Linked DNA regions of Homo sapiens: regions 1 and 3 are each linked to region 2. The links come from fine-mapping of genetic effects on gene expression. A gene starts in region 2. Each other region holds a variant in brackets. All regions are shown on one strand. Distances are between the middles of the regions. Region 1 has its middle 16 kb from the start of CLEC7A. Region 2 holds the start of LINC02390 (long intergenic non-protein coding RNA 2390). Region 3 overlaps CLEC2D (C-type lectin domain family 2 member D).

What was found. PIP is the estimated chance that this variant, and not a neighbour inherited with it, causes the effect. A credible set is the group of variants that fine-mapping cannot tell apart.
Region 1: its variant is the best candidate, but not a certain one, in a credible set for the expression of LINC02390 in whole blood (GTEx, PIP 0.64).
Region 3: its variant is the best candidate, but not a certain one, in a credible set for the expression of LINC02390 in T cells (TOPMed, PIP 0.75).

What each region holds. Positions count from the first base shown.
Region 1 is chr12:10,142,793-10,149,931 of GRCh38, forward strand. No RefSeq gene overlaps it. Among named protein-coding and RNA genes, the nearest start is that of CLEC7A, 16 kb to the left of the region's middle. The variant A/T (reference allele first, on the strand shown) is at 3,731.
Region 2 is chr12:9,699,716-9,706,854 of GRCh38, forward strand. LINC02390 (long intergenic non-protein coding RNA 2390) reads left to right here and starts at 3,669. Exons shown (of 2, transcript XR_931347.3): 1 at 3,669-4,442. It also overlaps a transcript of CLECL1 not described here. RefSeq lists an enhancer at 2,457-2,506.
Region 3 is chr12:9,677,207-9,684,345 of GRCh38, forward strand. It overlaps CLEC2D (C-type lectin domain family 2 member D), which reads left to right. Exons shown (of 5, transcript NM_013269.6): 2 at 3,717-3,827. Among named protein-coding and RNA genes, the nearest start is that of CLEC2D, 11 kb to the left of the region's middle. The variant A/AT (reference allele first, on the strand shown) is at 4,407.

The DNA of each region.
Region 1 (7,139 bases), 440 kb after region 2:
TGAAGGACTTTATAAACATCATTCCATTAAATCCTCAAATATCTCTGAGGTAGCTATTAGTGGTATTCCTCTTTCAGTTGAGAACTTCAAGGCATTAAGAGGGTACATAGCTTGCCTTAGACAACAGAAATGTTCAGTAATTAACTGGGATTTGAACTCAGTTCAACTTCAGAGCCCTTGTGCTTAACTATCATATTTATTTCTCATTACAGAAATGCATGCATGAACAATAGTTTATTTACATCAGGAGTCAGTAAATATCTTCTGAAAAGGGAGAGAGGGTAACCATTTTAGATTTTGCAGTCCACTTTCAGTCTTTGCTGCACATATTTTTAATAACCCTTTTAAAATGTAAAAATTAGTCTTAGATCACAGCATGCACATAACAGCCCTCAGGCCAAGAGCTGAAGTTGTAGCCCTGATTTAAATGATATAGTTGGGATCAAAAAGCAGTATATGAACTAATAGAAAGAGTTATCCCCAGGATAGATCAGATCATGGCAATTGCCTCTGAATCTAAGGTTTAAGAAAATAATGCACCAGTGTCTATAAGGATTGAAGACAGAAATAGTAAGGGCGAATGGGCAATGACTCACAGGCACTATCAGCTTGGCTAAAGAAGATAGCTCTGTCATCAACTTTGAAATAGAAACTACCAGACACAAAGTCAAGAATCCATCTTTCAGTATTGAAGTACAATTTTTTTCCCCAGGGATACTCTCAGTTCAACTTATCTTTGTTCAATGATATCAGTAGCCCTAACAGAAAGAGAAGCTTAAATACCTAATTACAAAATAGTTATCTTGAACTTTTTCTTATAGCCACAATAGAGTAACAAGGACTCAATTCACCTTCCAAATTAAAACAAACAAAAGGATATACATATATAAAGCAATAGTTTTTAAAACACTGGCTATCAAGTAATCAAGGACAGTGATTCCTGAGAGATGGAAAACAAGCAAGGTGAGCTCTATAATCGCCCTAGCTTACCAAGTTTAGAATGTTTCCAGGCCACACACAGGGAAGGGGAACTGAGGATGAGGCTAGTAAACTCCATGGATTAAAGATATATAAAGCTGAAAGCCAGAGAAGAAAAAGGCAAACAGAGTTCAGAGGAGAGTACAAGAGAAGAGTAGGCTGCATCAAGAAAGAACTCAGAGATCTACAGAGGATCTTGCTTGAGGACTCAGCAGAGTTCAGATCAAAGCACAAGTGTGAGGAGCTACCAGAGGGTCCAAGGAAAGAAACATCCAAACTGATTAGAGAAAACACTTCCCAGTGCTCACACACAGCAAGGAACAGTGCCCTTTCCCAACATCAAGGCTGGAAAAGATCATAGTTCAGTGAGGCTTTCAGTAGGATATTCAGAAACTCTTGCCTTCATAGTGGGAAATAATTAAGCCCCAGAATGAGAAATTCTTTAATATTGCCTATCATAAAAACAATAACAGAAACGTCACACTGTTTCTATGAAACTTAAACATATCTCATAATAAAACTCATAGGAGCACAAACCTATTTAGTATCGACCAAGGTAAAATGAACAATGTCTGGCTTTCAATCAAAGATCAGCAGGCATGCAAAGAGTTACAAAAATATGACCCATAATGGGGAGAATAATAATCAAAACCAACTCAGAGGTTAGAATTAGAAGATGTAGACATTAAGATAATTAATGTGTTCAAAACACATTTATATATTTTAAAAGTTACATAGAGATGTAGAAGACAAAAAAAAAACACCAAAGTACACTTTTAGAAATGTAAATGACAAAAGATAAAATTAAAAATACACTGTAAGGTATTAATGGCAGATTGGACACCCAGAAGGAAAGACTAGTGAACCTGGAGATATAACAAGAGTCACTATTAAAAATGAAGCCCCGAGAGAATATAATTTTAAAAGGAAAAGAAAGAAAGGGAAGAAGAAAGAAAAGTAAAATAAAAGAAGGAAGGCAAGCAAGAAAGAAGGAAAAGAGGCCAGGCGCGGTGGCCCACGCCTGTAATCCCAGCACTTTGGGAGGCCGAGGCGGGTGGATCACGAAGTCAGGAGATCGAGACCATCCTGGCTATCTAGGTGAAATCCCATCTCTACTAATAAATACAAAAAATTAGCCGGGCGTGGTGGCGGGCACCTGTAGTACTTGGGAGGCTGAGGCAGGAGAATGGCATGAACCCGGGAGGTGGAGCTTGCAGTGAGCCGAGATCGTGCCACTGCACTCCAGCCTGGGCGACAGAGTGAGACTCTGTCTCAAAAAAAAAAAAAAGAAGGAAAAGAGAAGGAGAAAGAACAGAAAGTAATAGAAAGGAAAGAAGGCAGGGGGAAGAGAAGCGGAAAGTAAGAGAGGGGAGGGGACGGGAGGGAAAGGGCAGAGCAGAGCATTAGGTTGCTGGGAGATAATTTCTAGCGCCTAATACGCGTGTATTAAATCCCTTAACAGTGTGTGGGAGTGGGGTAGAGGTTGGAGCAGAAAACATATTTGAAAAAATAATGCTTAACATTTTCAAAGCTAATGAAAAATGTAAAACAATAGATCCAAAAGCTAAAGAACTCTGAATACAAGAAACAAACAAAAAAACTTCACCAAGGCACATCATAATAAAAAATGCATAAACCCTGTGACAAAACGAAAATAAAATATCTAACAAAAGCATAGATAATTATGTACAGAGAAACAAAGAATGATAGAATATTTGTCATAAGAAATAATACAAGTAAGAAGACTGTGGAGTAACATTTTTGAAGTATACAAAAAAATCTGTCAGCCTAGCATTCTACACCCAGTGAAAATATCATTTAAAAGTACAGATGAAATAATAATGTTTTCAGACATCTTAAATCAGAATTAATCACAAACAGAATTTCAGTAGAGAAAACATTTAAAAAATTCTTCAGGAGGCCGGGCACGGTGGCTCACACCTGTAATCCCAGCACTTTGGGAGGCCAAGGCAGGCAGATCACAAGGTCAAGAGATCGAGACCATCCTGGCTAACATGGTGAAACCCTGTCTCTACTAAAAAATACAAAAAATTAGCCAGGCATGGTGGCAGGTGCCTGTAGTCCCAGCTACTTGGGAGGCTGAGGCAGGAGAATGGCATCAACCTGGGAGGCGGAGCTTGCAGTGAGCAGAGATCGGCCACTGCACTCCAGCCTGGGCGACAGAGCGAGACTCCGTCTAAAAAAAAAAAAAAAAAAGGAGGAAAAAGAAATAGGAAATAGATCAAAGGAGACAAATTGAAAACAAATATCAAGATGACAGACTTAAGTATAATTAATCAGAATTTCATTAAATGTAAATGTTTTAAACACCCAAAAGAAATTGTTAAATGATGTAAAATAGCGAGCCCAAATGTTATGTCAGCTAAAAGGAATATACTCGGTTTAAAGACAAAAAAATAGGTTAAAAGTAAAAGGATAAAAAAAGATATATCATGCCAATATTAATCAAAGAAAAGCAGGAGTGGCTGTACTAATTTCAGACTAATAGATTTCAGAACAAACATTACTAACAGGAATAAAAAAGTTTACTTGGTTAGAGGTCAGTTCATCAAGAGAGAATGAAAATCCATAATATTTATGCCTTGATTATCAGAGCTTTAAAATATACAAAGCAAACCTGATAGAACTACAGGAGAAGTAGACAAAATCATAATTATCATCAAAGGTTAGATACTCCTTTTTCAATAATTGATATGATAATAGACAAAAAATATCAGCAAGCATATAACAG[A/T]CTTCAACCAGACTGGGGATGGTGACTCATGCCTGTAATCCCAGCACTTTGCGAGGCGAGTCAGGTGGATCACCTGAGGTCTGGAGTTCAAGACCAGTCTGGCCAACTTGACGAAACTAAGAATACAAAAATTAGAGGGGCATGGTGGTGTATGCCTGTAATCCCAGCTACTCGGGAGGCTGAGGCAGGAGAATCTCTTGAACCCAGGAGGCGGAGGTTGCAGTGAGCCAAGATCGCGCCACTGCACTCCAGCCTGGGGGACAAAAGCGAAACTCTGTCTCAAAAAACTATATATATATATAGCCGGGCATGGTGGCACATGACTGTAATCCCAGCTTCGCAGGAGGCTGAGAGAGGAGAATCGCTTGAACCCGGGAGGCGGAGGTTGCACCCGCGCCACTGCACTCCAGCCTGGCCGACAGAGACCGAGACACCTTCTCAAAACTAAATAAATAAATAAAGACTTGAATCAAATTATTGTCCGCATTTATTTGATGTACATTTTAACAACATTCCATCCAACGACAACAGATTACATATTCTTTTTAAGTGTACATGGAAAATTTGCCAAGATAGATCATATTTTTGGCCATAAAATGTCTCAATAAATTTAAGGGTTTAAGTCATTAAAAATGTTTCTTCTCACATGGAAACTAATAGTATAATGATTTCTGGAAAATTCCCAAGTATTTGGAAATTAACACATTCTAAATAATCAATGAATCAAAGAGGAAATTTGAAGGGAAATTAGAAAGTGTTTTGAACTGAATAAATGTGAAAAATTACCATACCAGAATCTGTTGTATACCACTAAAGCAATATTTAAAGGAAAGTTTAAAGCACTGCATGACTATATAAAAAAGAAGAAATGCCTCAAATTAATGAACTCAGCTTCCATATTAAGAAACAAGAAAAAGAAGAAATTAAAACCCAACTAAGTAGAAAAAAGAAACAATAGCAATCAAAGTAGAAATTAATGAAATAGGAAACAAAAATATATAGACAAAGTCAATGAAACAAAGAGCTTTTTTAGACAGCAATTTCAACTTTTATTCTAGATTCAGTGGGTACATATGCAGGTTTGTTACATGGGTAAATTTCATGATGCTGAGGTTTGTAGTGCAGATCATTCTGTCACCTAGGAAGAGAGCATAGTACCCAATAGGTAGTTTTTCAGCTGACATTTCCCTTCCTCCCTCCCTCCCCCTTCTAGTAGTTCCCAGTATCTATTGTTCTCATTATTACGTCCATGCGTACTCAATGCTTAGCTCCCACTTGTAAGTGAGTACATGCAGTATTTGGTTCACTGTTCCTATGTTAATTCACTTAGGATAATGGCCACCAGCTGCCTCCATGTTGTTGCAAACAACATGATTTCATTCTTTTTTATGGCTGTGTAGTATTCCATGGTGTATATGTACCACATTTTCCTTATACAATCCACTGTCAATGGACACCTAGGTTGATTCCATGTCTTTGCTATTGTGAATAGTGCTGTGATGAGCATACGAGTGCACGTGCTTTTTGGTAGAGTGATTTATTTTCCTTCAGATATATATCCAGAAATGAGATTTTCAGATTGAATCATAGTTCTGTTTTAAGTTCTTTCAGAAATCTCCAAACTGCTTTTTATAGTGGCTGAACTAATTTACATTCCCACCAACAGGGTATAAGCATTCTCTTTTCTCTGCAGCCTTGCCACCATCTGTTGTTTTATGACTAATAATAGCCATTCTGACTGGTGAGAGATGGTGTCTCATTGTGGTTTTAATTTGCATTTCTCTAATGATTAGTGATGATGATCATTTTTTCATATGTTTGTAGGCCGCTTGTATGTCCTCTTCTGTGAAGTGTCTGTTCATGTCCTTTGCCTCTTTTTAATGGGGTTATTTGTTTATTGCTTGCTGATTTGTTTAAGCTGCTGCTGCTGCTTCTTTTTTTTTTTTTTTTTTTTTTTGAGATGGGGTTTCGCTTTTGTTGCCCAGGCTGGAGTGCAATGGTGCAATCTCAGCTCACTGCAGTCTCTACCTCCCAGGTTCAAGTGATTCTCCTGCCTCAGCCTCCTGAGTAGCTGGGACTACAGGTGCGTGCTACCACACCTGGCTAACTTTTGTATTTTTAGTAGAGATGGGGTTTCACCATGTTGGCCAGGTTGGTCTCGAACTTCTGACCTCAGGTGATCCACCCACCTTGGCCTCCCAAATTGCTGGGATTACAGGTGTGAGCCACCACACCTGGCCTAAATTTCTTATAGATTCTGGATTATTACACCTTTGTCAGATGCATACTTTACTAACATTTTCTCGTATTCTGTAGATTGTCTAATTTCTCTGTTGATAGTTTCTTTTGCTATGCAAACCTCTTTAGTTTAATTAGGTCCTATTGTTGATTACTGTTTTTGTTGCAATTGCTTTTAAAGATTTAGCCATAAATTATCTGCCTTAGCTGATGTTGAGTAGGGTATTTCCTCGATTTATTTCTAGAATTTTATAGTTTGAGGTCTTAAGTCTTTAATCCATTTTGAATCAATTTTTATGTGTGATGAAAGGTAGGGTTTCACCAGTTTCAATCTTCTGCATATGGCTAGCCAGTATATTCCAGCACTTTTACTGAACAGGGAGTCCTTTCCTATTGGTCGTTTTTGTCAACTTTGTCAAAGACCAGATAATTGTAGGTGTGCAACTTTATTTCTGGGTTCTCTATTCTGTTCCCTCAGTCTATGTGTCTGTTTTTGTACTACTATCATGCTCTTTGGGTTATTGTAGCCTTATAGTATAGTTTGAAGTTGGGTAACATGATGCCTCCAGTTTTGCTCTTTTTGCTTTGGATTGTTTTGACTATTCAGGCTCTGTTTTGGTTCTGTATGAATCTCAGGATTGTTTTTTCTAATTCTGTGAAAAATGATACTTGTAATTTGATGGTAATAGCATTGAATCTGTACATTGCTTTGGGCAGTATGCCATTTTAACAATATTGATTCTTCCAATCCATGGGCATGACATGTTTTTCCATTTATTTGTATTGGCTCTGATTTCTTTCAGCAGTGTTTTGCAGTTCTCCTTGCAGAGATCTTTCACCTCCTTGTTTAGTGGTACTCCCAATAATCATTTTATTAGTGGTTATTATAAGTGGGATTATGCTCTTAACTTGGCTGTCAGCTAGAATGTTACTGGTGTTTAGAAATGCTACTAAGTTGTGTACATTGATTTTGTATCCTGAAATTTTGTTAACATCATTTATCAGTTTTAGGAGCATACTGGCGAAGTCTTTAGAGTTTTCTAGGTATAGAATCATGTTGTCAGTGAAGGGAGATAGTCTGACTTCTTTTCCTATTTGGATACCTTTTAAGTCTTTCTCTTGCCTGATTGCTCTGGCTAGGATTTTTGGTACTATGTTGAATAGGAGTGGT
Region 2 (7,139 bases):
AGCAGGGAAAGCATTATCTCTGGATGTGTCTATGAGGGCTTTTCTGAAAGAGATTGATGTTGGAATCACTAAGCTGTGTAAAGATGATCTACCTTCACCAATGTTGGCAGGCATCATCCAATCCGTGCAGGTCTTACCCAAACAGAGCAAAAAGTCAGGTAGGGTAAATTTATTCTCTTCTAAAGCTAGGGCATCCATTTCTTTCTACTCTCAGACATTGGAGTTCCCCAGTTTCCCAGACCTTTGGCCTTACACTGAGAATTATGCTTTGTTTTATTTAGGCATATTTTAATAATACTTCATGTATTGGTCAGGAAGACATTTCCTGGTTCTAAGGCTTTCGACTCAGACTAGATTACAACACTGGCTTTCCTGGTTCTCTAGCTTGCAGAAGAGAATACTAGGAAGCTTGTACTTCCTACATAGGTAAGAAGAGGAAACAATCTCTGGCTTAGAAACTATGTAACCAACCACAATTCACAAAGATTCCATAATTTCCTTGGCAGGAGGCTAAGATCTAAAGCCCAATATGATTGTACTTCTCTTATCAGTTTTCTGCAAACAAAAGAGAATAGAACTAAAATACAGCTTTGTTAAAATAATGTTGATTCATTTGCATGAAATATCAGATCACAGAAAAAACATATTTTTATAAAATATGAGCTCTGTCACACTGGCCCTCATAGACACATCCAGAGATAATGCTTTCCCTGCTGAGTATACCTTATCTCAATCAAGTTGACATATAAAATTAGCCATCACACTTCACTTGACAGTTTTAAAATTAGGTTGTTTTTTCCAAATGACAAAAAGCAGGAGCAAACTGCAAGTGCTCCTGCAACACATCTAACAAGAAAGCCTTATCTGACTTTTATGAGGTTCGGTATAATGCCCAAACTGCATATTTCAAACTCTTGCCATCAGATTCACCTAAGAAGACAAAAGATCTATTGCCTTTGAACCTACATTCCCAAAGCGTGCAACATGAACTTGCCTACATCCAAGGGGTAGGACCTTCTTACGTAGTGAATTCCCAAAGTGTTGCTGAAATTATGAACAGTGCTCTGCCTCATACTGACAAGTGAAACCTCTATCTCTGATTGCCCAAAAATGTCTAATGAAGCTATAGCATCACTACAATTTGGAATAGACACTTAATCCAGAATTGAAGAGATATAGATAAAAATGAACTGAGTGCAATGCCAAGAGATAGGATAAATATGGCCCCCTCCAAAAAAAGATCCTAAGTCCATGACAGTGGTGCTAGAGATTTCTCACAAAACTCCAAGGAGTAAAACAAGAAACTATAAAGACAGATGGAGAACCACATGTTATGGTACATCATATAAACAACGAAGAGATGGTAGTCAATTGTGTAAGAATCTCGAAGTTGTTGGGTTCAAATAAAGAGAATTATGAAATGAAATAAGTATCCAATTAACACAGGAAATAATATGAACAATGGGGTTAGGAGAACAGAGATCAATGTAAGAGATGTTTCCAAAAGTAATGATGTTGTCATGGAAGTTGGCAGATGATCAAATTATCAGGTATGTAAAACTGATCATGAAGGTGTTCCAAGGAAATTACTCTAATTGTTTCATCAATATTGAACCCAAAATTAAATCAACCCAAACATAGAAAAGGAAAAAAAAAAAGGCAAAAGGCACAGTGTAATGATGCTCTCTTTACTCCTTTGGAAGGGATTGATAAAATTGCAACTACTTCTTGTATAAAGAATCATCCATTTTATAGATGACTACAAATTCAATCCTAAACCTTCAAATACAATGAAAAGAAAGTATGTACTGAGAGCTGGAATGACTACTCACCTAGGCCAAAGTCTCACCTAGGAATGAAGCATCAGGCACACAGTGCACTGAGCATGGCTGAAGGTGCATTGACTAATCTTCTAAAACCTACTCCAGAATGAGAGAGACTGGTACAACTCCATTTGTGCTAAATTTGGAGATATAAACAATATTTTGGAGTTAAAACCTAGAAGTTTTCAAATCTACATAAAAAATCAATTTCTTTTTTTTCTTGCAAAAGCAGAAAAGATGAGAGGACATTGGCACCTGCCAAGAGTGTTGATGAAATGGGGTACTTCCCTGGCCTCTTTGCAGGAGTTGCAAAGGGGTTGGCTTGTTTACTCAGCCCACAGCTCTCAACCCCTCATGGGAGGGGAAACTCACAGGTGAGTGGGTGTAGGGATCAGGATGAGGGCTTCTGTGTGCCAGCAGGAGTAGAACTCTGTGCTGCCCCATGGCAACATCTAGGGGAGTTCCCATGACCCCTCAAGCCCCAGAGGGTGAGTGTTACAGTGTGCTCTTTTAGCTTTTCTATCCACAGATGACAAGTATTTAACAGCTCAGTGGAGGGTCAGGGTGACAGCCTTTTGGACCTGCCTTCTTGGTACCTCAGTTCTTGTTTAGCGTCCAGGAAGAATCAGGTCATGCAAACAAATTGAAGGGTAGTGAATGTGGAGGATTTTATTGAGGGATGGAAGTGGCTCTCAGCGGGATAGGGAGCTGGAAAGTGGATGGAATGGGAAGGTGGTATTCCCCTGGAGTTCAGACAAACTCTTCTCCGAGGTCCCACCATCAAGCTGTCCCTCTGAGCTCAAACTGCTTCTCTCTGACATCCGGCTGCTTCTTCTTTTCTTTCTTTCTCTGTCACTCTGCTATTCCGCTGCTCTGCTGCTCTGCCACTCTGGTGATGGGGCCTGTGGTTTTTATGGGTAGAGGATGGGGTGTGGGGTGGGCCAAAAAGCAACATGTGAGTGGGAAAGCAGGAAATGCATGTTCTCATTTTGGTCTGTGATCCCAGGCTTGAGGATGTGTGGCTCTTGCTTGGGACAGCCCTCTTCTGCCCAGTATTTCCCTGCTTCCCACCCATATCACCAACACTGCTCCTAACCCTACTCAAAAGGTACATTAAAATATAGAGGTGGAAAGTTATATGCTGCTTCTCTCAGAGCAAACCCTTTCTCTCTTATGTAAAATAACTAACTTTCCTCCACAGCATAATTTAAAAAGAAAACTAATGATGACATTAGTCAGAAATCTGTAGACATCTCTACTCCTCTAGTAACTCTGAAAACTGGGTCTGCTAATGAGTTGGTAGCATTAAATCTGAAGACTGAAAGTTTTCTATTCTGTTCCTTCTCTTTTTACCCTTACTTTAGTGGAACAGTAAATTTCAGTAAAATCAGTGAAGGTGTATCTGCCAAGGTTCCAATCAACACAGAGGAAGAGAAGACTTGTTCTATAACTAAACTAGTAGACAACCCAGAAAAATTATCTCTACTTATAATAAACAGAAATCCTAATTACTGCATCCAACTACCTGACCATCATTCATTTTTAAGAGACAGAATTTTTAACGTTCCAAAGTTCTCACCCAAAAGAGATCTGACAGTTTCTGACTGCAATCCATTCTGGAGAAGTTGCTACTAAATTGAATAGAGTAAAGTTATTGTTCCTTTAAATACAATATCTATGAATGGACAATCAAGATTTATGTCCCTTAAGGCATAAGACAGCTGTTAAATGTTGTTCCTCCATTGTACTAATCAACTTCATACTACTGGAGGATATTTGTAAAAAATATTTATATATACACACATACACACACACTCTTAAAATAATTTGTGCTAGGTTATTTATTTATTTATTTATTTATTTATTTATTTATTGAGACAAGGTCTCACTCTGTTGCTCAGGCTGGAGTGCAGTGGCATGATCATAGCTCACTGCAGCCTCAGCTTCCCAAACTCTGGCGATCCTCTCACATCAGCCTCCCAAGCAGCTGGGACCACAGGCATGTGCCATTATACCTGACTAATTTTTGAATTTTTTGTAGAGACAGAGTTACACCGTGTTGCCAAGGCTGGTCTCAAAATTTTGGGGTCAAACAATCTACCTGCCTTGGTCTTTCAAAGTGCTTGGATTATAGTTGTGAGCCACTGAGCTCAGCCTGTCCTAGGTCTTTTAATGTCAAAAGAACACTTGCCCGCATATATATATATATGTATACATATTTGTCATTTCTTTGTCTTAAAACTGGAATATCCTGCTTTAAAACTTTAAGACAAAGTGTAAATGATTTTCTTTTTTTAATGAGAAATAGTCACCTTTTGTCAATTTTATTTGCTGATTTTATTGACTTGCGTATTCTACAGTGGAGACCTCAACATATTCTATGTATTGTGTTTTAGTAGCAAGGTGAACATATGTATGATATTTTCCACCTTAATGTTACTCTTTAATTGAATACATTTATAAGTTACATTAAAGCTTATTTTATGTTGAAAGAAGGAGCTAGAAAACTAGTGATGTTAAACAATGTGTTAACATTTATTTTCAATGATGAATCATTTAGTTTACAAGACATATCTTGTATTTTCTTTAGGTAATTGCCAAATCAGAGTCAAATTTATGGTAAGTTCATAGTACTTTAATATTTTATTAATATGAAATACTTGATTTTTACATCTTTAGAATTTTAATTGCACAAGGAGAACTTCCAATAAATATTTTCTGTATATAATTATGACACTTTCTTCACAAATATTACATATTCTATGCTCCAAGGCCTTGAACAATTTCTTGTGAAAATGTTGCTGCATTGTCACAGTTATTTCACAATTTTCATATAGAGAGGAATAGGGATTAAGTTATGTTCATTTGCTTTTTTTAACTTTTAAGTTCAGAGATACATGTGCAGGATTTGTAGATTTGTTACATAGGTAAACACATGTCATGGAGATTTATTGTACAGATTATTTTATCACTCAAGTATTATGCCTAGTATCCATTATTTTTTAAATTCTCTCCCTCCTTTCACCCTCTGCTGTTTGGTAGGCCCCCGTTTTTGTTATTTCCCTCTAGGTATCTATGTGTTCTCATCATTTAGCTCTCACTTACAAGTGAGAACATGTGGTATTTGATTTTCCATTCCTGTGATAGTTTGGTAAGAATAATGGCATCTAGTTCCATATATGTCTCTGCAAAGGACATGATCTTGTTCCTTTTTATGGCTGCATAGTATTCCATGGTGTATATGTACCACATTTTCTTTATCCAGTCTATCGTTGATGGGCATTTAGGTTGATTTTGTGTCTTTGCTATTGTGAATAGTGCTGCAATGAACATATGTGTGCGTGTGTAGTTATTATAGAACAATTTATATTGCTTTGGGTATACGCCCAGTAATTGGATTGCTGGGTCGAATAGTAGTGCTGTCTCTAGGTCTTTGAGAAATTGCCATACTGTCTTCCACAATGGTTGACCTAATTTACACTCCCACCAACAACGTAAAAGCATTCCTTTTTCAACACAACCTTGCCAACATCTATTATTTTTTGACTTTTTAATAATAGCCATCTGACTGGTGTGGGATGGTGTCTCATTGTGGTTTTGATCTGCATTTCTCTAATGATCAGTGATATTGAGCTTTTTTTCATATAATTGTTGGCCACATGTATGTCTTCTTTTGAGAAATGTCTTTTCATGTCCTTTGCTTACTTTTTAATGAGGTCTTTTTTTTTTGTAAATTTGTTTAAGTTCCTTATAAGTGCTGGATATTAGATCATTATCAGATGCATGAATTACAAAAATTTTATCCCATTCTGTAGGTTGTTTACTCTGTTGATAGTTTCTCTTGCTGTGCAGAAGATCTTTAGTTTAATTAGATCCCATTTGTCAATCTTTCCTTTTCTTACAATTGCTTTTGGCATCTTCGTCATGAAATATTTGCCTGTGTCTATATCCTGAATGTTATTGCTTAGGTTTTCTTCTATGGTTTTTATAGTTTTGGGTTTTACACTAAAGTCTTTAATCCATCTTGAGTTGATTTTTGTATATGATATAAGGAAGGGTCCCAGTTTCAATTTTCTGCATATGGCTAGCCAGTTCTCCCAGCACTATTTACAGGGGAATCCTTTCCCATTGCTCATTTTTGTCAGGTTTGTCAAAGATCAGATGGTTGTAGGTGTGTGGTCTTATTTCTGAATTCTCTAATCTGTTCCATTGGTCTATGTGTCTGTTGTTGCACTGGTACCATGCTGTTTTGGTTACTGTAGCCTTGTAGTATAGTTTGAAATTGGGTAGTGTGATGCCTCTGGCTTTGCTGTTTTTGCTTAATATTATTCAGGCTATTCAGGCTCTTTTTTATTCCATATAAATTTTATTCCATATAAATTTTAAAATAGGTATTTTTCTATTGAATCTGTAAGTTGCATTGGGAAGTACGGCCATTTTCAAGATCTTGATTCTTCCTATGCATAAGCATGGAATGTTTTTCCATTTGTTTGTGTCTTCTCTGATTTCTTTGAGCAGTGGTTTGTACTTCTCCTTGAGGAAGCCCTTCACTTTTCTTGTTAGCTGTATTCCTAGGTATTTTGTTCTCTTTGTAGCAATTGTGATTTGGCTCTCTGCTTGCCTGTTGCTGGTGTGTAGGAATGCTAGTGATTTTTGCAAATTGATTTTGTAACCTGAGACTTTGCTGAAGTTGCTTCTCAGCTTAAGAAGCTTTTGGGCTGAGATGATGGGACTTTCCAAATATAGAATCATGTCATCTGCAAACAAAGACAATTTTACTTCCTCTCTTCCTCTTTGAATATGCTTTATTTCTTTCCCTTGCCTGATTGCCCAGGCCAAAACTTCTAATACTATGTTGAAAAGGTGTAGTGAGAGAGGTTATCCTTGTCTTGTGTCAGTCTTCAAGGGGAATTCTTTGAGCTTTTGCCCATTTAATATGATATTGACTGTAGATTTGTCATATATGACTCATTATTTTGATGCCTGTTCCTTAAACACCAGGTAGATTGAGAGTTTTTAACATGAAGGGATATTGAATTTTATTGAAAGCCTTTTCTGCATTTACTGAGATAAGCATGTGGTTTTTGTCTTTAGTTTTATTTATCTGATGAATTACATTTATTGGTTGGTGTATGTTGAACCAACCTTGCATCCCAAAGATGAAGCCGACTTGATCGTGGTGAATAAGCTTTTCAATGTGCTGCTGGATTCAGTTTGTCAGTATTTTGTTGAGAATTTTTGCATATGATCATCAAGGATATTGGCCTGAAGTTGTCTTTTTGTTTGTATTTCTGCCAGGTTTTGGTATCAGGATGG
Region 3 (7,139 bases), 23 kb before region 2:
TAATTTTAGATCTTTATTTTTTTCTAATAGATGCATTCAATACTATCAATTTCTCTTTAAACAATGCTTTTACTGCATCCCACAAATTTTGTTAAGCTGTATTTTCATTTTCATTTAGTTGAAGTATTTTAAAACTTCTATTGTGATTTCTTCCTTGACCCATATGTTGTTTAGAAACGTATTGTTTAATCTCCACATGTTTGTGGAGATTAGTGGGATTTTAAAATTTTCTTTCTGTTATTGACTCTAGTTTATTTACATTGTGGTCTGAGAGCAGACGCTGTATGATTTCTATTTTGTTAAATTTGTTAGGATATGTTTTGGCCCAGAAGGTGGTCTATTATGGTGATTATTCCATGTAATCTTGAGAGTGTGTATTCTGCTGTTGTTTGACAAAGTAGTCTATAGATGTCAATTATATTCGGTTAATTGATGATGTTGCTGAGTTCACCTAAGTTCTACTGATTTTCTGCCTGCTGGATCTGGGCATTTCTTTCTTTCTTTTTTTTTTTTTTTTTTTTTATTTTGTTGTTTTTGAGACAGAGTCTCGCTCTGTCACCCAGACTGGAGTGCAGTAATGCAATCTCATCTCATTTCAACCACTGCTTCCCGAGTTCAAGCAATCCTCCCACCTCAGTCTCCTGAGTAGCTGGGAATACCGGCAAATACCACCACACTTGGCTCATTTTTGTCTTTTTGTAGAGACAGATTTTACCACATTGCTCAGGTTGGTCTTGAACTCCTGAGATCAAATAATCCAGCCTTTTGGGCCTCCCAAAGTGCTGAGATTACAGTCATGAGCCAATATACCCTGCTGGATCTGTGCATTTCCAATAGAGTGTTGTTGAAATCTCCAACTATGATAATGAATTCATCGATTTCTCCTTGCAGTTCTGTTAATTTTTGCCTCACGTAGTTAAATACTCTCTTGTTAGGTGCGTGCACATTTAGGTTTGTTATGCGGAAACATAACATAGTTTCTTGGAAAGCTAATTCTTATACCATTATGCAATGCTTTTCTTCATTCCTGATAAATTTCCTTGCTTTGAGGTTTGTTCTGTTTGAAATTTGTATAGCTTCTCCTGCTTTCTTTTGTTTGTGCCAGTATGATATAATACATATATATATTCATGATCCATTTACTTTTAATTTGTGTGTCTTTATATTTAAAGTGCATTTCCTGCAGACATCATATAGTTTAATCTCTGATTTTTAATTGGTGCATTTAGATCATTGATATTAAAATGATTATTAATATAGGTGGATTAAATATCTACCATATTTCTTTCTGTTTTCTATTTGTTGCCTTTGTTCTTTGTTTCTATTTTTGTTTTTCATTCTCTTCTTTTCAGAGACTGAGTCTCATTCTGTTCATTAGGCTAGAGTGTGGTGGTATAATCATAGCTCCCTGTACCCTTGAAATCCTAGGCTCAAGTGATTCTCCTACCTGAGCCCTGAGTACCTGGTATTACGGGCATGTGCCACAAAGCCTGGCTAATTTTTATTTAATTTTTGTAGCGACAGAGTCTTTGCTACGTTGCCCAGGCTGGTCTTGAACTTCTGGCCTCAAATGATCCTCCTGCCTCAGTGTCTCAAAGGGTTGGGATTATAAGTGTAAGCTACAACACCCAGCCATGTCTTCCATTTTTTTCCTGCATTTTTAGTTTTTAACTTAGCATTTATAAAGTTCCATATTTTCTCATTCTTAGTATATCAATTATACTTTAAAAATGTGATTTTAGTGGTTACCCTAGTGTTTGCAATATACACTCACAACTAACATAAGTTTGCTTTCAAATAATACTATACCATTTCACAGGTACTGTGAGTACCTTATAATAAAAAAATCTAATTCTCTGCTTTTATCCCATGTGTCATTTCTGTTATTTATTTTATTTACATGTAAGAATACATAAGCATATAAATATATATAAAAGATGTATACATAAGCACACATAATTAAATATATTGCTACTATTGTTATTTTGAACAAACTGCCATTTGTTAGATCAATTAAGAATAAGAAAAATAGTTTTATTTTACCTTCACTTATTTTTTATATTGTTCCTTTTTCATATAATTTAGGTTTCTAACCTGTATAATTCTCTTTCCTTTTAAAATAATTGCATTTAACTTTTTTGTTTTTTGATATAAGACAAGTCTACTGGCAACAAGTTATCTCAATGTTTCTCCAAAATAGTGGTTGTTTCTCATTCACTTTGAAGAATTTTTTTGGCTAAAGAATTCTAAGTTGATAAGGTTTTTTCTCTTAATACTTTAAATATTTGTTTCCACTGTCTTCTTGCTTGCATGGTTTTTGAGAAGAATGTAAATGTCATTTTTATCTTTGTTTCTCTACATGTAGAATTTATTTTCCTCTGGATTCTCTTATGATTTCTTAAATCTTTGATAAAGGGGGTACAGGGGCATATGTGAACTCTATATTTTTAATTCAGTATTTCTGTCAACTTAAACTGATAAAAACTAAAATCTATTGATTAAGACAAATATCTTGGGAAACATCAATGTAAAGCTTGCTGATCTCTCTAGTGTTGGGGGGAATGTTGGAGAAAAATATGCCTATTTAGCTAAGGACAAACCTAGATAAATTAACTAGAGGTGTGAATTGTATGCAAGAGATTGTGTCAGAACAGGGTTCCAATAATGAACTTCATAAGAGGTTTTAGATAACCTAAGACATTTTGAAATATAACACAACTACAGGAAATTATACAATACAAATATGTAGCTTGATTAATTATTATAAGATAAACACCTTTGTTGACTCCTGATATGGCCTAGCTGTGTCTTTACCCAAATCTCATCTTGAATTGTAGTTCTCATAATCCCCACTTGTCATGGGAGGGACCCAGTGGGAGATAACTGAATCATGGAGTTGGTTACCCTCGTGCTGTTCTTGTGATAGCGAGTGAGTTTTCATGATATCTGATGGTTTTATAAGGGGCTTTTACCCCTTTGTTAGGCACTTCTGTCTCCTGCTGCCATGTGAAGAAGAACACGTTTGCTTCCTCTTCCACCATTATTGTAAGTTTCCTGAGGCCTCCCCAGCCATGTAGAATTGTGAGTCAGTTAAACTTCTTTCCTTTTTAAATTATCCAGTCTTGGGCAGTTCTTCATAGCAGTGAGGATGGACTAATACAACTGCTAACATTGTCTAAGAAAGATCCTTGTTATGTGGCTCAGAGGCCCTCCATGTATTCTTAACTATTCACTCTCCTATCCTTCCAAGAATAACACTAATTTGACCTCTACAATAATCACTTTATCACTCCAGTTTTGCCTTTTTTCCTCCAAAACAATGCCTTTTAAGTCTATTTTAATCGATAGATTTCCTCTTAATATCATTTAAAAATATTTCTTTACATTTTTAGACAGGAATCAGAATAATTTGCTATGTTGAATTTCCAGTTACTTGGATTTTGTTGATTTCATTCCTGTGGTTTAGTTGACATGAATCTCTCCAATTGAAAGGGTAACTTGAATATGGTAGCTGGAAAGTTAAAATCAATTCTTTTAACTTTGGAAAATGATTAAATTCTGGAGATAGAATAGTAAGTTCATAAGATGACAGGTCATTTGCATCCTCTAGTGAAAAGCGAAGGAATTAAATAAAAATAACATTTTGATGCTTAATGTTTCTGGCAGTATTATGTCTGTATTTAATTGTTAAAATGTTTTTCAATAATTTTTTCCAGGTTGTCTGCATTCAAAAGAGCATTCTATTAAAGCTACCTTAATTTGGCGCTTATTTTTCTTAATCATGTTTCTGACAATCATAGTGTGTGGAATGGTTGCTGCTTTAAGCGGTAAGTGAACTGTAATCTTTATTCATCTAGAGAGAATTATACTTGTAAAAAGAAGAGGAAGAATCTGAATAATTTTGTTATTCTTTACAGCTTTTAATATATTGTCTCACTAACTGAGTTACACTCCAATAACTTTTTAAGTGGCACCAAAAATTTTAATTATGTAAATAGGGTTCACATTATTCCAAGTTTAGTGAGATGATCAGAGTCTTCAGAAGGTAGAAGACAGACCACTATTCCTTAAGAATATTGATGCAAAAATTAAAAAAAATAGTAAACTGAAAAATAGTCTCTTGTCCGATCTAGGAACATGGTTAATTTTACCTCCACAACAACCTTGTTTCATGAAAAATAGCAAAACAGATGGTTTAAAGTACACAAAACTACTAAGTGGCTGTATAACATCACAGGCAGCCTGTTCTTTCTTCCTAGCTATTTGAGCATGTTCTGGCCCTTGTTTTTTTTAGCATATGTAGCCCATCTTCCTAGAAAACAAACTCCGTTTAGTGATTGTACCCTAAAAGCAATTAGCTATAAAAATTATCTTGTACTTCAAAACATGCTTGCAGTGCATCTAAT[A/AT]TAGACCAAGCGAAGACATAGAAAACTACAAAAGCACTTCCCCCAAACCTCATGCCAATCTGGATATCAACCTAAAATCTACCCCCTGTTACTACATTCTGAAGTAATTTCAGAGAGACCCTTCAAATACTGCTTACGTAACTTAAGAGTCAGCAATACTTGGAGCACTCCATATAACACTCTAAATAATTTCTATTCATTTGCAAATCTTTTGCTTATTATCTTTTGGCATTTTGAAACCACAGATAATATACTTTATACATTTATGAAGCAAAAATAATTTTTTTATTTCAGAGATTTAAGTCAACTAATTGTAACTATTTAAGAAAGAAAAAATTGGAAAGAGACAATTTCTGTACTCTGTAAGTACCTCAGTATTAATCAAGGGAATGTATTCTGAAATATAATTTAAATTTATAGCTCTTTTTTTTACAGTAAGCATATGAAATTGACACTTATGACTGTTTTCCTTTATTATCCATTATGTGTTTCTCTTCCTTTCAGCTAGCACTTTGGAAATGATTTCTTGTGTGGAGCCAATAGCTGGAGCCATCTTCTAATCTGGTCATTTTCTTTCTTTCTTTTTTTAAATGTGTTATTATGTATTACTTTATATCATTTTTATGTTTTATTTAACATTTAGATTGTTAGTTAACTATTCAAGTGTGGTATTTCCCCATTTAAATCGAGTTATTTAGATTGGCTTTAGTTATAAAAATTCCTAATAGAGCTTTGTAGTTATAGCTCTGGTCCCTAACTTTTTTTTTAAATTATACTTTAAGTTCTGGGATAAATGTGCAGAACCCGCAGGTTCGTTACATAGGTATACACGTGCCATGGTGGTTTGATGCACCTATCAACCCATCATCTATATTAGGTATTTCTCCTAATGCTATCCCTCCCGTTGCCCCCCAACCCTCAACACGCCTCAGTGTGTGATGTTCCGCTCCCTGCATCCATGTGTTCTCATTGTTCAGCTCCCACATATGAGTGAGAACCTGCAGTATTTGGTTTTCTGTTCCTGTGTTAGTTTGATGAGAATGATGGTTTCCAGTTTCATTTGTCTCCCTGCAAAGAATATGAACTCATTCTTCTTTATGGCTGTATAGTATTCCATGGTGTATATGTGCCACATTTTCTTTATCCAGTCTATCATTGATGAGCATTTGGGTTGGTTCCAAGTCTTTGCTATTGTGAATAGTGCCACAATAAACATACGAGTGCATGTGTCTTTATAGTAGAATGATTTATAATCCTTTGGGTATAGACCCAGTATTTCTGGTTATAGATCCTTGAGGAATTGCCACACTGTATTTTCCAAAATGGTTGAACTAATTTACACTCCCACCAACAGTGTAAAAGTGTTCCTATTTCTCTACATCCTCTTCAGCGTCTGTTGTTTCCTGACTTTTTAATGATTGTCATTGTAACTGGCATGAGATGGTATCTCATTGTTGTTTTGATTTGAATTTCTCTAATGATCAGTTATGATGAGCTTTTTATCATATATTTGTTGGCCACATAAATGTCTTCTTTTGTGAAGTGTCTGTTCATATCTTTTGCCCATTTTTTGATAGGGTTTTTTGTTTTATTCTTGTAAATTTTTTTAAGTTCCTTGTAGATTCTAGATATTAGCTGTTTGTCAAACGGATAGATTGCAAAATTTGTCTCCCATTCTGTAGGTTGCCTGTTCACTCTGATGATAGTTTGTTTTTTGTGTTTGTTTTTTTTTTTTTTTTTTTGTGCAGAAGCTCTTTAGTTAAATTAGATCCCGCTTGTCAATTTTTGCTTTTGTTGCAATTGCTTTTGGTGTTTTAATCATAAAACCTTTGCCCATGCCTGTGTCCTGAATGGTATTGCCTAGGTTTTGTTCTCAGGTTTTTATGGTTTTAGGTCTTATGTTTAAGTCTTTAATCCATCTTGAGCTAATTTTTGTGTAAGGTGTAAGGAAGGGGTCCAGCTTCAGTTTTCTGCATATGGCTAGCCAGTTTTCTCAACACCATTTATTAAATAGGGAATCCTTTCCCCCATTGCTTGTTTTTGTCAGGTTTGTCAAAGATCAGATGGTTGTAGATGTTGGGTGTTATTTCTGAGGCCTCTGTTCTGTCCATTGGTCAATATATCTGTTTTGGTACCAACACCATGCTGTTTTGGTTACTGTAGCCTTATAGTTTAATTTGAAGTCAGGTAGCATGATGCCTCCAGCTTAGTTCTTTTTGCTTAGGATTGTCTTGGCTATACAGGCTCTTTTTTGGTTCCATATGAAATTTAAAGTTTTTTTTTTTTTAATTCTGTGAAGAAAGTCAATGGTAGCTTGATGGGAATAGCATTCAATCTATAAATTACTTTGAGCTATATGACTATTTTCATAATATTGATTCTTCCTATCTATGAGCATGGAATGATTTTCCATTTGTTTGTGTCATCTCTTATTTCCTTGAGCAGTGATTTGTAGTTCTCCTTGAAGAGGTCCTTCACATCTCTTGTAAGTTGTATTCTTAGGTATTTTATTCTCTTAGTAGCAATTGTGAATGGGAGTTCACTCATGATTTGGCTCTCTGTTTGTCTGTTATTGGTGTATAGGAATGCTTGTGATTTTTGCACATTGATTTCGTATCCTGAGAATTTGCTGAAGTTGCTTATCAGCTTAATAAGTTTTAAGGGGATGAGACAATGGGGTTTTCTAAATATACAATTCTGTCATCTGCAAACAGAGATAATTTGACTTCCTCT